Regions from separate parts of the Homo sapiens genome. Here region 2 is linked to region 1. Evidence: fine-mapped expression QTL. Tissue or cell type: whole blood. Region 1 holds a variant in brackets; the other region holds the start of a gene. All regions are shown on one strand. Distances are from middle to middle.

The links. PIP is the estimated chance that this variant, and not a neighbour inherited with it, causes the effect.
Region 2: it holds the start of IKBKB, and the variant in region 1 is fine-mapped to the expression of IKBKB in whole blood (TOPMed, PIP above 0.99).

What each region holds. Positions count from the first base shown.
Region 1 is chr8:42,315,848-42,323,950 of GRCh38, reverse strand. IKBKB (inhibitor of nuclear factor kappa B kinase subunit beta) reads right to left here. Exons shown (of 22, transcript NM_001556.3): 10 at 7,612-7,741; 11 at 7,047-7,241; 12 at 6,180-6,294; 13 at 5,276-5,399; 14 at 4,530-4,681; 15 at 4,305-4,366; 16 at 3,107-3,216; 17 at 2,006-2,055; 18 at 1,798-1,897; 19 at 1,457-1,604. Among named protein-coding and RNA genes, the nearest start is that of POLB, 19 kb to the left of the region's middle. RefSeq lists enhancers at 1,013-1,512, 1,513-2,014. The variant C/G (reference allele first, on the strand shown) is at 3,338.
Region 2 is chr8:42,266,581-42,274,683 of GRCh38, reverse strand. It overlaps IKBKB (inhibitor of nuclear factor kappa B kinase subunit beta), which reads right to left and starts at 3,382. Exons shown (of 22, transcript NM_001556.3): 1 at 3,215-3,382; 2 at 2,479-2,601. The coding sequence starts at 2,583. It overlaps IKBKB-DT (IKBKB divergent transcript), which reads left to right and starts at 3,434. Exons shown (of 4, transcript NR_185843.2): 1 at 3,434-4,033. RefSeq lists a silencer at 3,102-3,391 and an enhancer at 3,888-4,387.

The sequences.
Region 1 (8,103 bases):
TGTGCCCCTTGAAGGATCAGGCCCTCCTGGGAACAGGTGCCATGCCTTCTCACCTGTGTGTCTTGCTGGGCATATAGTTAGCATTCAGTAAATGCTCAATGGATGTAGATGGCACATCAGGCTATCACCTGCGCATACCTGCACCTCCCTCTCCTCTTCAGATCCTCTCTACCTCGTCATCCTGTTTTCTCCCGTTCCTCTCTTCTTACAGGAGGATGTGTCAATCACGCTCCCAAGGCATGCTCAGTGCTCTGGCATGCGACCCCAGCCCCTCTGTTCTCTGCACTGTGTGTGGATTGTCCCCTCTGCCTTTGACAATGAGAATCTCCTAATGCACCATCTCCTGCTTCCACCATGAGCAACCATCTCCCTCTCTCCTTCCCTTTGCTCTTAAGGGAAACTGACACCTAAATCACTCTTTCATCCATGTCACCTTCTCTGCAGCCTTTCACAATGGGGCTTGCAGTCCCAACAGCTCTGGCTCCCACAACACGGCCAGGCCTGCCCGTCTCAGTTCTTGGCTGTTTTGTTTCCCATTTCCCCACCATGTGGCATCCCATGGACTCACAGCTACGTTAAGACGGTGTGCACAGAAAGCGTGGCTTACTGCACTGAGGGCAGTGCAGACGCAGACGATGGTCAACCAAGTTGCACTGCCGTGCATGACGGTGGGCTGAATTGGTGGCCCTAAGAAGGATATGCCCACATCCCAACTCCTGGAGCCTGTGAGTGTGACCGTACTTGGAGAAAGCGTCTTTAGAGAACCTGAGATGACATCACCCTGGACTACTTGGGTGGGACTCAAATCCAATGACAAGTGTTCTTGTAAGAGTCACCCAGATAAGGGACACAGGGGTCCCATGAAGACAGAGACAGAGACTGGAGTCACACACCAAAGAACGCCTGGAACCACCAGGAGCTGGAAGAAGCAAGGACAGTCCCTCCCCAAGAGCCCTCAGAGGGAGCTCAGCCCTGCTGACACGGGACTTTCAACTCCTGGGCTCTAGAGCTCAGATAACACGTTTGTTTTTGTTTTTAGTAGAGACAGCTCTGCTGCCCAGGTTGGAGTGCAGTGGCATGATCACAGCTCACTGCAGTCTTGAACTCCTGGGCTCAAGCAATCCTCCCACCTCAGCCTCCCCAAATTGCTGGCGTTACAGGCATGAGTCACCATGCCTAGCCCAAATTTCTGTTGTTTTAGCCCCTCAGTTTGTGCTAATCTTTACAGTAGCCACACGAAAGTAATACACAGATGAATGAAAACAATTAGCACAGGCCCTTCCTCTGACCTCCCCGCTTACACCAAGTCAAAGAACAGCGACGTGAAGCCCGAGCAGCAGCTGAGTGGGCTGCTGGTGGCTCTGTGGTGTCCCGTGTGGGATGGCGGCAGTGCACAGAGGTGGAAAGGCACAGGAGGCTGCTAGGCCAAGGGCCCGGGACCACAGCACTCACTCACACAAGCAATCTTCAGGAGATTCCAGAGCTCCTTCTGCCGCTTCTCCTGCAGCCGGACAACAGTCTTCTCATCCTCATTCATTAAGCTCACCACCTCTTCCACCTTGGGCAACAGTTCCAGCGCCTTCTGCTTGCAAACCACAGTTTTACTGCAAAGAATAAACATGGCAAACTAATGGCATTTGGGCTGGAGAAAGCAGAACCTGTGGCAGCTGTGCATCCAGTCAGCAGCTGCAGAAACTCTCTTCATGAGGTCCAGCGAATCAGAGAGGAGGGAGGAAGGTGACCTCATACCTGCATCTCCCAGTCCTTCCTCCAGAGCAGGAAGGTCGGGGCTCATACCTGAGCTGCGTATAGATCACTCGCACTTTCTTCTCGAAGCTCTGAATTGCCTGAAGCAGCAGCCGTACCATTTCCTGACTGTCACCCTCAGTTCGCTGGTCTGGAGAGAGGGAGGGTAGCATAGTTCCTCAAGGAAGCCAGCAGAGAGTAGTGATGCCCCATAAATGAGATAAGGAGAAGCCCAAGGCAGACACAGAACCCCACTTACCTCGAGGTTTTTCCCTTAGTCTCCTGTACAGCTCCCTTGCTTGCTCCTCTCTAAAATATACAAAGAAGTTCTGTCTAGACTTGAGGTCAAATATGGCTAATTTTTACATTTTTTTGGTAGAGGTAGAGTTTCACCATGTTGCCCAGGCTGGTCTCGAACTTCTGGGCTCACAAGCAATCTTCTTGCCTTGGCATCCCAAGGTGCTGGGATTACAGATGTGATCCACTGTGCCCAGCCAAAAACATTTTTTTTTTAAATTAGCTGAGCATGGTGGCATGCGCCTGTAGTCCCGGTTACTTGGGAGGCTGAGATGGGAGGACTGCATAAGCCTGGGAGGTCGAGGCTGCAGTGAGCTATGATTGTGCCACTGCACTCCAGCATTGGCAACAGGGCAAGACCCTGTCTCTTAAAAAAATAATACAAATACAAATAAAAGAACTAGAGGAGAATAAAGGGTTAATTAGAGAAAATACAGAATCAAAGTTCTGACATTTGGAGCTCCTGTCCTAAGAATCCTAGTGAGAGAATCAGGGAACACTGCTGAGCTCACGGTGACACAGCCCTCAAGCGGCCTGCCTGGTTCCCTCCATCTGTACGCCAGGAGCACATGTGATCTCCTTCAGGTAGGAGTGATCTGCCTAGACCCCTCCGCCCCTCATGGAGCCAATGCCAAATACCTGACAAAGACTCAAACGAATAGTTTCCAGGTCCAAACTCCTAAGCCTCATCAGGTTCTTCCTTCTCTGTTTTACTTTCTGCTCTGAGCTATGCCTGAGTCAGGGTGGGTGGAACAAATCAGGGGAGTCTGCTACAGGGGTAGAGGCTGCTTGCATTTTACAGCCTTTACAGATTATGGCCTGCGTCTCAAATGCATTATCTGAATTCATCCTTACAACTTCGTGACTTAAGACTGTTTTTCTTGTCACTGAACAGATTTGGAAACTGAAGCTCAGTGATGATTTGCTGGAAGTGACCCCACAGGGAAGCATGCTCTAGAGAATGGTCCCGCACAGCCACTGAGGGTGCCCTTGACACACACACCGAAGCTCCAGGGCTGTCTGTGTGTGCTGGGCACAGAGGGGCCCCCCAGCCAGTACTCACAGGTCGTCCAGCGTTCCCCCCTGCTTCCGGCCCATGGGGCTCCTCTGTAAGTCCACAATGTCGGTCTGCAGAGCCATCATCCGTTCTACCAGGAGTTTCACTTCGTTCTCCTAATGGAAAAGCTGTGCTAATGTCAACTGATGTGGTAGGCGCATGCTGAGATGCAAGATCTGCGGGGGAGCGAGACCAGGGGACCCGCCACATTCCCTGAGGACCCTCAATGGACTGGCT[C/G]AAAGGAATGTGGACTGTGGGGTCTGAATGGCTGCGCCTGCATCTAGGGTCCACCGCTTTCTAGCTGTGTGACCCCTTGGCAAGTTACTTACCCCCAGCTACAGTTTCCTTTTGCATAAAATAGGCTTCTAACAGGGCCATCTGAGGAGTCAAGTAAGATGAAGTACTTAAAGCCTCTGGCATGGTGCCTGGCATACAGAAGATGCCCAAGACACATTACTTTCTCTTCTCTTCATCTGTCTATCCTGATGCTACCCGGGCAGGGAGGCCCAGACTGTTTTATTTCACAGATTATGAGTCCCAAGATGGGGAGGAGCACTCAGCCCTTCTATGGTTAATATTCACCATTAAACACACATATACTCCATCAGTACTGATTCATAAAAATCGATACTAAGACACAGGTGAAGATCCTTGCCCAAGTACACAGGGGAAAACAGAGGATAAGTCCAGGAAAAAGCCCCGGAGCCTGACTTCAACCTTCAGTTTGTGTGAGGTTCATTAAGTCACATGTATTTCCTTTGCCTTCATAATTAACTTTTTTTGGTGACATCTGATTTACGCTGCCCTGAGACTTTCTGCCTAGACCTTTTATTTCCTATGGATTTAGCATCCCAACAAAATTAGTCAAAAACCTTCGACAAGAGGGAGTGTTGATCATCCATCCAATGCCCTTCCTAACAGGAAATGGTCTTGGCTTTTCCCCAAGGGAACCTAACCCTTGCTTCTTATTTAAACCTGGACCATCTCTGTCCATTCATGCAGCTCTTGCATCTGGCCACAGAGGGGCTCCCTTCACTGGCTACTCTCTTGGCCTCTTTTCAGCTGGTCCAGTTAAGCTCAAAGCATGGTGAGGAACACCTGATTTTTGACAGAGATCGACCCAGTGTTTGATGAGAAAGTGAAAAGTGGGAGCACAAAATCTCACCCCCTTGGTAAGTTCCGAAACCCAAAATGAGTCTCCTACCCGCCCACAGAGCTCCACAGCCTGCTCCATTTCCCTCCAGGCCAGCAGCAGTTTATCTGATGCTGAAAAAAAATTGAGAAGGAAAAACAAAACAAAACAAAATAAAAACACCACAAAACTGAAACAGAAATAAGCAACTCAATTATAATAGGACAAAAGAAACCTTAGAAAGAGAAAAAGAAAAAAAAATGGTGTCTTTAAACTCATTGCAAAGTGCACACTCACTGATCCCAAACTCGGTTTGCTCGCTGTACTTCTCCAGGTCAATCTGGATGCTGGTTTTGAAGAAATCCAACTTGGCCTTGAGCTGCTGAGACATGGAAGCCATGGAATTCTTCATTTTGGAGAGGCAGCTGTTGTTTCGGAGGAGATTCATCCTGCAGGGACCACAAGGAACAGTCTTGGAGCATCTCTGGGATCCAAATTCCATTTCCTGTACAATAACAAAACCCCCTCAAATGTCAAGGGAGGTCCCTGCTATAATTATTATCATCATCACTATTATTATAGCAGCCACTTATAACCCAAGGACAATTTCCTAGCCCTCAGCAATGCCTGAGGTTCTGCACTAAACTTGACATCAGGCAAAGGAAGACACAAAAGGCCAATAATGTTGGCAAACGAGTCACAATGAGGAAAGAGTCCGTAAGTCCCCAGCAGCACGGTCAGGGGAGTTTTGCTAATCCACATGGTAGTGAGCTCCTCTGGGTTCCCAAACCAGCCACAGCTTGGCCAGCCCAGCTTCAGTTCCACACTCCTCACCCTGTGCCAACCACACTCACCTCGCCAGGTCTAAAGGGGCCTCCGTCAGTCCAGCCCACCCAACCGCTTCCCGTCCATCCAAACCAGTGTCTTCCTTTTGTTGCTCATAACGGTTGCTTCTGGGTCCCTGCCTCAACCACCTCCCTGTGGCCAAAGCCACCAAGGAATTTTAAATAAATTAAGTTTAAAAAAAAAGCCTGGCACGCTACATGGCGGCTCGCTGTCCCTGCTGCAGCCGGTTGCAATCTTCCTTCAGGGTCTGGATGCTGTGCCAGACCTGGCCCCACACCTTCCTCAGCTGGAAGAAGGCGAGATTCCTCTTGGGCTCTTGAACTGGAGACAGAGACACAAGCAATTGTCAAAGAATAACCACAATAACTCTCCTACAATTAACCATATCCTGCCTTCGACACTACTGGCACTTTCACGTTTTGTACCTACTATAGGATCATGTAACTTTGGAGGGTGTTATGCCTGGTTACTGTCACATACATGTATTTGTACCAACAGCATGTACCAGTGGTCAATAAGTAGCTGTTGATTTGAAGGAACACTTTACGAACCATTGGACACATATGTATATAGGGCCATATATTTTCAACAGAATTTTTTTTTTTTTTTTGAGACAAGGTCTCGCTCTTGTCACCCAGGCTGGCATGCAGTGGGGGTGATCATGACTCACTGCAGCCTTGAACTCTCAGGCTCAAGTGATCCTTCTGCCTCAGCCTCCTGAATAGCTGGACTACAGGCATGCACCACCACATCTGGCTAATTTCTAAATTTTTAGTAGACTTGCGAGCTTACTATATTACCCAGGCTGGTCTTGAACTCCTGGGCTCAAGTGATCCTCCTGCCTCAGCCTCCCAAAGTGCTGGGATTACAGGTGTGAGCCACCACGCCCGTCCTAGGAGGTTGAAATTAACTAATGGTTTCCTGTACTCTCTCTTGCCTGGCTACTCCTTGCATGTCCTAAATAAGGAAGGCTGCCCTGAGGACTGGCGATATTAATTTCCTTTACGTGGCTCCCCCTTCCTTAGTCCAGTCTCCCTTCCCTGCCTTGTCCCACATATTATAACGGATTATTTAGAAAAACAAAACATAACAAATTCTTACGGATACAGCTGACACTTTCAGGTTGGGGCCGTGGGGAGATCTGAGTCTCATAGGTGATTTTACTGTTGTCAAAGAGAAAAACAAGATCCATGTCCAATGTGTGGCCCTCATTTAACTGCAAAGGGACAAGGACAAAATGAATCTTGTGGATCCAACCCTCTCTTTTCTAACTGATAATGAAGAAGTTCCACAGCTTTCCCCACTGTTCAGCAAGAGCATCATCTTCAGCCAGCAAGTAGGAAGCATCCATGAAGTGTTTAACGTTTCCAGCCACACTTACTGTCTGAACACACTCTTTATTTACAAACGTATTACATTCTATTTTACTCTCTGTCTTCCCTGGGAAGTTCAGAAATTCACTATATACTTCCCTATGCAATGATTATTTCTCATATGATAACTTTAGCTCCACAAGTCAGCTGAGAAGGTCTTTTTGAGCAGAGGTCATGTCTTACACAGCTATAGTTAACACAGGTGCCTAACCCAGTTCTGTACACAGAGGCCATCATAAATACTTTCAGTTGACTCAAGAAAGTGCAGCATCCTTTTTTTTTTTTTTTTTAGTACACTTGGAAGAGGGCCAAGCAGGCAACTTGAGAGATTCGAGTGTTATAGCATCATTTTTTGCAATAAAGGCAAGAGACCGGTCTTGGAGGGTTTGGAAGTAACAAGTCCAGCAAGGAGATTTGTGTTTCCTATCAGGCCACACAGAGGACACCATACTCCAACTTAAAAACCAGCCAGGTATCCGCACTGTGTGATTAACAGACTACATGACAAAGCAGAATTGAAATCTGAAAGTGTGTTGAGTTTCCCAGGAGGCACAGCCAAGGTAAACAGGATGGTGTGTACGAAGCCAGGGCTCACCTTGCCGTCTGAAATACACTGAGTGGCAGGCTTATCGGGGATCAACGCCAGGCCCGCTTCCTGCAGCAGCTCCTGGTCCTCCTCTGGGATGCCCGTGTCCTGTTGGATTCTGGCCTTCAAGCTCTGCAGACTCTCATCCTCTGTCACAGGGTAGGTGTGGATGGTGCCCGTGACCATGTTCAAGATATGAACCAGCTGCAACACAACCCAGATGTTACTGGAAAACCGATTTCTTCAAGGAAATGCCCATCTATTTGCCTAGGTCCTCTCTCTGCTACTCCCAACATTTCCCAACCACACAAAGCAAGGGCCTAGCTTGAGGGAGGGAGGTCATGTGCCATGTTTCGCATATTTGCATCTTTCATAATCCTGTCTGTGGCTATGACCTCATAGCCAATGTCAATTAGCACAACTGTCCTTTCTTTACTTATGCAGAAAGACTGATGCAGGAGCCTAAATTTCCTCACTAGGTCAGCTGGCCCCATCCCCTGCTCTGTCCTAAGAACTGCATGTTCCACTGGGGACCCCAGCTTTTGCCTCAGGGCTAACTTGGCTCCACACTCACCTTTAAGTTTAAGATGTCATCCAGGGCCTTGAAGCAGCCATTGGGCCCATACGTGGGATCCGTGCCCCTCTGTCGGGGGTGCCACATCAGCATCAGTTGCAGCCACTTCTCCAGTCGCTCAGCCAGGACACTGTGGAGAGGAGCATAGTGTGTGAGGAGACACTTCCAGCCAATGTTGGGCTACAGTGTGCGTCTCCCAGTATACACACAGACGGCAGCCAGTAGACGGTGATTGAAAATGAAAATGGGTTTATCAGAAACAGTATAAACATTTCCAATCAATTATTCAGGTGTTCACACCTCTCTCCTGAATTCTAAAATACCCCCAAATCAGAGATTGCTGACCTCCAAATGGCTGCATAAGAATGACCCATGAGAGCCGGGCACAGTGGCTCATGCCTGTAATCCCACACTTTGGGGAGGCCAAAGCAGGTGGATCACTTGAGGTCAGGAGTTTGAGACCAGCCTGGCCAACATGGTGAAACCCCATCT
Region 2 (8,103 bases), 49 kb after region 1:
GCAGGCACCTGTAATCTCAGCAACTCGGGAGGCTGGGGCAGGAGAATCACTTGAACCTGGGAGGCAGAGGTTGCAGTGAGCCAAGATCGCGCCACTGCACTCCAGCCTGGGCGACAAGAGCAAAACTCCGTCTCAAAACAACAACAACAACAACAACAAACTAATCTCGCAGAAGTAGAAAGTAGAATAGTGGTCACCAGAGGCAGGAAAGGGTGGTGGGGGTGGGGGGAGTTGTGGAGGGAAATAGGGAGAGACTGGTTAATGGGTACAAAATTACGGTTAGGTGGAATAAGTTACAGTATTCTAAAGAACAACAGGGTGACTACAGTGAATAAAACTTTATTGTATATTTCAGGCCGGACGTAGTGGCTCACGCTTGTAATCCAAGCACTTTGGGTGGCTGAGGTGGGCAGATCACCTGAGGTCAGGAGTTTGAGACCGGCATGGCCTACATGGTGAAACCCCATTTCTACTAAAAATACAAAAATTAGCTGGCATGGTGGTGCACACCTGTAATTCCAGGTACTCAGGAGGCTGAGGCAGGAGAATCACTTGAACTCAAGAGGCGGAGGTTGCAGTGAGCCAAGATCACACCACTGCACTCCAGCCTGGGCAACAGTGCGAGACTCTGTCTCCGGAAAAAAAAAAATATTGTATATTTCAAAATAGCCAGAAGAAAGAATTTTGACTGTTTCCAACAAAAAGGATACGTGTTTCAAGTGATGAACACGCCAATTACCCCGATTTGATCATTACACATTATGTATCAAAATATCACACTGTACCCCATAAATATGTACAATTATTATGTGTCAATTAAAAATAAAAACAGGCCAGGTTCAATGACTCATGGCTGTAATCCCAGCACTTTGAGAGGCCAAGGCAGGAAGATCACTTGAGGCCAAGAGTTCTAGACGAGCCTGGACAACATTGTGAGACCACCATCACTACAAAAAATAAAAAAAAAACCTCAGCTGAGGCCAGGTCCCATGGCTCAGGCCTGTAATCCAAACATTTTGGGAGGCAAAGACGGGAAGACTGCTTGAGGATGAGAGTTTGAGACAAGCCTGGGCAACATAGCAAGACCCCATCTCTACAAAATTTAAAAAAATGTTAATTATTTGAAATATGGATTTTCATCATCATTCTAAATGAATTCTCACTTTCATGTGGATCTGCTTATTTTTTGCCGTGCAGTATCGCAAGCAATACTGGGAAGACATCATAATTAGCAAATATTTTAAATATATATATATATATATATTTTTTGAGACAGGGTCTCATTCTGTCACCCAGGCTGGAATGCAGTGACACTATCTCGGCTCACTGCAACCTCTGCCTCCTGGGTTCAAGCGATTCTCCTGCCTCAGCCTCCTGAGTAGCTGAAGTTACAGGCATGCACCACCACACCAGCTAATTTTGTATTTTTAGTAGAGATGAGGTTTCACCATGTTGGCCAGGCTGGTCTCAAACTCCTGACCTCAAGTGATCCTCCTGCCTCGGCCTCCCAAAGTGCTGGGATTACAGGTGTAAGCCACTGCACCCGACATTTAAAATAATTTTTAAAAAATGGTTTTGAAACAAGGTCTCACTCTGTCACCTAGGCTAGAGTGCAGTGGCACAATCATAGCTCACTACAGCCTCAAACTCCTGGACAAGCAATCCTCCCACATCAGCCTCCAATGTAGTGGGACTACAGGTACGCACCAAGGCTGCCTAAGGTTTTTTTTTTTTTTTTTTTTTTGAGACGGAGTCTCACTCTGTTACCCAGGCTGGAGTGCAGTAGCGCAATCTTGGCTCACTGCAACCTCCGCCTCATGGGTTCAAGCGATTCTCCTGCCTCAGCCTCCCAAGTAGCTGGGGACTACAGGCACGTGCCACCAAGCCTGGCTAATTCTTTGTATTTTTAGTAGAGATGGGGTTTCACAGTGTTAGCCAGGATGGTCTCCATCTCCTGACTGCGTGATCCGCCTGCCTCAGCCTCCCAAAGTGCTGAGATTACAGGTATAAGCCACCACGCCCAGCTGGCTGCCTAATTTTTAAACCTTTTTTGTAGAGACGAGGTCTTGCTATGTTGCCCAGGCTGCTCTTGAACTACTGGCCTCAAGGAATTAAAATATTTTAAATTATTTATTTAGTCTCATCCTTTAAATTTTCCTATTTCTATATGTTTTATAACATATAATATCAGTATATATTAGTACATGATATTCTACTGTTACCATATATATATAATAGAGACTAAGAGCTTAACTTTATTTTACTATTTATTTAGGTGACATAGTCAATAAAGCATGGAGACCACTAACCTGGAGTCAGCTCAGAAGTCCTGAAGCCCTCTTCCCAGTCCCCCTATTCACTGTCCCAAGATGACCAAAGCCAAAGGTGAGCCCTTGGCCCAGCAGGATCAGAGAAAGTGGAGGCAGTGAGGAGGGGGCCTGGCTCCCCGCCCCTCCCCAAGCTGCACAGAGGGCCTACCTGATTGTGCCATCGGATGACATTTCCAAATCCCCCTGTCCCAAGGCGCTCTTTCATTTCCCAGGCCCCACATGTCTGCGTTGTCAGGGAAGGTGACCAGCTCATACTGATGTCGTGCTAACTCTATAAGCAATTTGGGATGGGGAAAAAAGGTTAGGATTAAGAAAAAAATGGAGCTCAAAGGGATGGAGAAGGCAAGAGATACCACTGCTCTTGAATGGGAGAGAAGAAAAATACAACTGGTTTTTTATTTTGTAAAGAAACCAATGTGTTTGGTTGGTCCAAACTTTGTGGCAAACTTTTGTCCCTCTCACCCTCCCCCATCCGGTTGCTGTGGCATCAGGCAAGGAAGAAAGTCACCGAGGGAGGCGATGCCCACGCCCTTGCCCTAGCGAGGGGATCCCCAGCTGACTCCACCAGGGGCGCCCGGGCCTGCCCGCCTTCTGCCCGAGGTGGCAGGGGCAGAACCTACTTCTGAGCATCGCCGAGGTCACGTGTTTCTTTACAATGTTCCCATAAATCGCAGGTTCCCCTCAAAGCCACCCACCCCCAAGAAGCCACCCCAGGGAGAGCTGTTTCTCCCGGCTTCCCGAACTCCAACCCGCACAAGTGAAACGCTCCCCAGTCCGCAAGCTGCGACTTCCCAGCGGCACAGAGGGGTCTTCCGGGCCTTGCAGGCAGCGGGGCGGCGGGGCCTGCAGGTGGCACCCGGGCCGCACCCACGAGGGGGACTCACCTGTCGGCAGGGACGCGGGGCAGGGGGCGGGCTCCCCGGGGCGGGGAAGGCGGGGCTGGGGCGGCCAAACCCGGGGCTATGACACCCCCCTGAAAACATTAAAATGCGGGAATCTTAACGCGGGCAGCGCGGCGCGACTTCCTCAAACACTTCCTGCTCTGACGTCACGGAGCACGTTGGCCGCGGCCGCTCTTAAAGAGGCCGCTCCCGGCGCGAGGCAGACCAGGTCCGGATGCTGCGAGTGCTGCGCCTGTCCCGGGACCCTCGACCGGGCGACTCCCCCGGGGCGGGGGTGGCGTGTGGTCTCTAGACAACTGAGGGAAAGTAGACAGACCGTGCTCACCGATTTAAAAGAACAGCCCTGAAATGACCCCCGTTACACCCTGTTCTCTTTAGACAAGTTACTTCCACCTGGAGCGGTTTCTGGGCCCGGGTATGGGGATTTCTTCACCCGGCCCCCTAGGCTTTCACCTCGGTGGAATTTCCCGCGCCCCCGCTGGGATGATTTAGGGACTGTTGGCTAGAACTGCCCTTGCCTACCGCCCTACTGCGGGCGCTCCCCTGTCTGGGGGGTGCTTGGCTGGGTGTGGAGAAGGATCAATCACAGCTGACTCCTCAGAGGTGACAGCCCCTGCCCCCTTAAAAACAAGAAAAGACCTAGCAGTGTGAAGCCAAACTGCACCCCCAGCCCCGGTGACATGAGGAAACCGTGAGGCGCTCAGCCTGAGGTTCATCGTTCATCTCCTTCCTGCTTGGAATCAGAATGTCCTCACTGCTGAGTTTCTCCGTTTTATGGGATTACATTAGTGGACAAAGGAGGTGTGTGTGTGTGTTGCTATATTTTATTCAAGCAGAAAAAAACTACCAAAGGAACCTGAAGATGATAATAATAGCTCACATCTATAGAGTGCTTACACAGTGCAGGGCTCTGTTCTAAATCTCTGTACTTAGATTTCCTTATTCAATCCTCAGGGCAACCCTGTAAATTGGAAAATACTGCATCATCATCATCATTATTATTATTATCTCGCTCTGTCACCCAGGCTGGAGTGCAGTGGTGTGATCACAGCTCAGTGCAACCTCCAACTCCTGGGCTCAAGTGATTCTCCTGACTACAGGTGCGCGGCCGCCATACCTGGTGGCGGGGTCTCACTCACTGTGTTGCCCAGGCTGGTCTCCAACTCCTGGGCTCAAGGGATCCACCCGCCTGGGCTTCCCAAAGTGTTGAGATTACAGGCTGTGAGCCACTGCACCTGGTCTGCATTATTATTATTTCCAAGGTACATGGCTGCTACGTAGATGAGCTGATACTCAAACCCTAGCAACTGGTTCCCGGGTTCTTAATCCGTGGCTAAAAGTAGCATGTTAAGAAGTTCAGAAGGAGGCAAACTGGATTTTGAATCCAGATACTGCTGTTGACTACCTCTGAGGCACGGGGGCTGGTTACTTAAACACTGTGAGAACCTATTTCCTCTTTTAAAATTTAGGCAATATTAGGTTGAATTGCATTTAATTGTCATTTTTTGGAAATTGAAAACAGCCAAAACATCAGTAACAAAGATCAGCAGTTTCATCTGCTTCATTGTAATAGCAGGGGGACAGGCGGGCTCATAGAAAGTCATAGAAAGGAGGCCACCCCAGAGTTGTTGTGAGGGACAAATGAGGTATTGATAGCAGCAGTGCCTGACAGCCCTGGGGTTGAAGTTAACTCAGGGACAGATCTCAACCCAAACATAGGGGTCAATGGTGTCCAGGGCTGTGCTAGGCACGCTGGCTGCTCGGTTTCTCCCCTCTCCCCTCTTCCCTCTCCTTTCTCTTTTTCTTTCTCTCTCTCTCTCTTTTCCTTCCTTCCTTCCCCCTCCCCTCTCCTCCCCTCCCCTCCACTCCCCTCCCCTTCCCTTCCCTTCCCGGCTACTTGGTTTCTTTCTTTTCCTTCTTTTCCTTCCTTCCTATCTCTCCTCCTTCCTTCCTTCTTTCCTTCTTTCCTTTCCTTTTCCTCCCCTCCCCTCCCCTCCCCTCCCCTCCCCTCGCTTCCCCTCCCCTTCCCTTCCCAGCTGCTAGCTTTCTTTTTTTTCTTTCCTTTCTTTCTTCCTTTCCTTTCCTTTCTTCCTTTCCTTTCCTTTTCTTTCCTTTTCTTTCTTTTTTCTTTCTTGACAGGGCCTTTCTCTATCGCCCACTTTGGAGTATAGTGGCAGGATCACGGCTCACTGCAGTCTTGACCTCCTGGGTTCAAGGGGTCCTCCCGCCTCAGCCTCCCCACTAGCTGAGATTACAGGCACGTGCCACCATGACCAGCTAATTTTTAAATTTTATTTTGTTGACATGGGGGTCTCACTATGTTGCTCAGACTTGGCTTGAACTCCTGGCCTCAAAGCAATCCTCCCGCCTTGGCCTCCCTAAGTGCTGGGATTACAGGTGTGAGCCACCGCTTCTGGCCTGGTATTTCTTGATTACTCCCAGCTAAATGGCAAGCTCAGCCTCAAGGCCAGAAGCAACAGGAACATGAGTAAATAGTTGTAACACACGTAGAATAGTGACTGCATTGTCTAAGTGCAATATAAGTGTTTGCTTAATAAGTAAATTTTTTAAATAAAATATTTATTGGCCAGGTGAGGTGGCTCATGCCTGTAATCCCAGCACTTTGGGAGGCCAAGGTAGGCAGATCACTTGAGGTCAGGAATTTGAGACCAGCCTGGCCAACATGGTGAAACCACGTCTCTACGAAAAATACAAAAATTAGCTGGGCGTGGTGGCAGGTGCCTATAATCCCAGCTACTTGGGAGGCTGAGGCAGGAGAATCACTTGAACCCAGGAGCTGGAGGTTGCAGTGAGTGGAGATCGCACCAGTGCACTACAACGTGGGCGACAGAGCGAGACTCCATCTCAAAAAAAAAAATTTGGCCGGGTGTGGTGGCTCACCCCTGTAATCTCAGCACTTTGGAAGGCCGAGGCAGGCAGATCACTTGAGGTCAGGAGTTCAAGACTAGCCTGGCCAACATAGTGAAACCCCGTCTCTACTAAAAATACAAAAATTAGGCCAGGCACAGTGGCTTACACCTGTAATGCCAGCACTTTGGGAGGCCAAGGCGGGCAGATCACGAGGTCAGGAGATCAAGACCATCCTGGCCAATATGGTGAAACGCCATCTCTACTAAAAATACAAAAAAATTAGCTGGGCGTGGTGGCACGTGCCTGTAATCCAAGCTACTCGGGAGGCTGAGGCAGGAGAATCGCTTGAACCCAGGAGGCAGAGGTTGCAGTGAGCCGAGATCGTGCCATTGCACTCCAGCCTGGGCGACAAGAGCAAAACTCCATCTAAAAAAAAAAAAAAAAAAAAAAATTATTGAGCACCTATATGTGCTGGGCACTGTGGAGAGTCCATTTCCAGTACAATGTCATAAAAGGTTTCTCTTTAATCCTGTCATCTCTGAAAAACACTGTCCTGAGAAACTTACCAAGATGTCCGCTAATATGCCAAAAGTTTACTCTGCGCTCCTGTAATTTGAATCCTCATTTTGCTCAGCTCAAAATAACTTGGCTTTCAACTGAACATAAATCTCTCTGATAAGGTCACGTATTACTAGGCTTTTTTTTTCTTCAATTAATCATGGACCAGGAAGGGGCCTCTGGGTTTTATCATATTCCAAGATATTTATTATCTTAAGCTCAATTTTCTATCCAGATAAGACATGTTTAGCTATCTCTGCCTGCATCTGGTTTCTGTCCTGCTCTGGAGATATGAGCAGACTGTTTACAAAAGATATTTTCAGATTCAGCAGAAAAATGTCCCCTTTTCTTCCTGCTTTGAGGCTGAGTGTGCTTTTTAGCTGTGCTATAGGGAAATCAAGAAATACTGACCAGCCAGAGTGCCTAGCTCAGCCCAGGGCATTACTGACCCAGGGGATCCAAGCAATGGAATGAGATCTCATCAGAGGCACTTAGAATCTTACTGGGTTTTTAAGACCCACAGGGAGCCATGAAGTAAGGACAGACAAAGGCCAGGCAATATAAAATCACACACGGATTTGTTCTGCAGTAATTAGTACCACAGTACAGTACCGTTATAGGAAAGGGGTCCCGATCCAGACCCCAAGAGAGGGTTCTTGGATCTCGCGCAAGAAAGAATTCAGGGCGAGTCAGTAAAGTGAAAGCAAGTTTATTAAGAAAGTAGGGGCCAGGCATGGTGGCTCACTCCTGTAATCCCAGCACTTTGGGAGGCAGGTGGATCACGAGGTCAGGAGATGGAGACCATCCTGGCTAACACGGTGAAACCCCGTCTCTACTAAAAATACAAAAAATTAGCCAGGCATGGTGGCGGGCGCCTGTAGTCCCAGCTACTCAGGAGGCTGAGGCAGGAGAATGGTGTGAACCCAGGAGGTGGATGGATCTTGCAGTGAGCCAAGATCGCGCCAGTGTACTCCAACCTGGGCGACAGAGCGAGACTCCACCTCAAAAAAAAAAAAAACAAAAAAAAAACAAACAAAAAAAGAAGGTAAAGGAATAACAGAACGGCTACTCCTTAGACAGAGCAGCCCCCGAGGGCTACTGGTTGCCCATTTTTATGTTTATTTATTTATGCTAAACAAGGGGTGGGTTATTCATGCCTCCCTTTTTTAGACCAAATAGGGTAACTTCCTGATGTTGCCATGGCATTTGTAAACTGTCATGGTGCTGGTGGGAGTATAACAGTGAGGACGACCAGATGTCACTCTCGTGGCCATCTTGGTTTTGGTGGGTTAGAGCCGGCTTCTTTACCGAAACCTGTTTTATCTGCAGGGTCTTTATGACCTATATCTTGTGCAGACCTCCTGTCTCGTTCTGTGACTTAGAATGCCTTAACCATCTGGGAATGCAGCCCAGTAGGTCTCAGCCTCATTTTACCCAGCTCC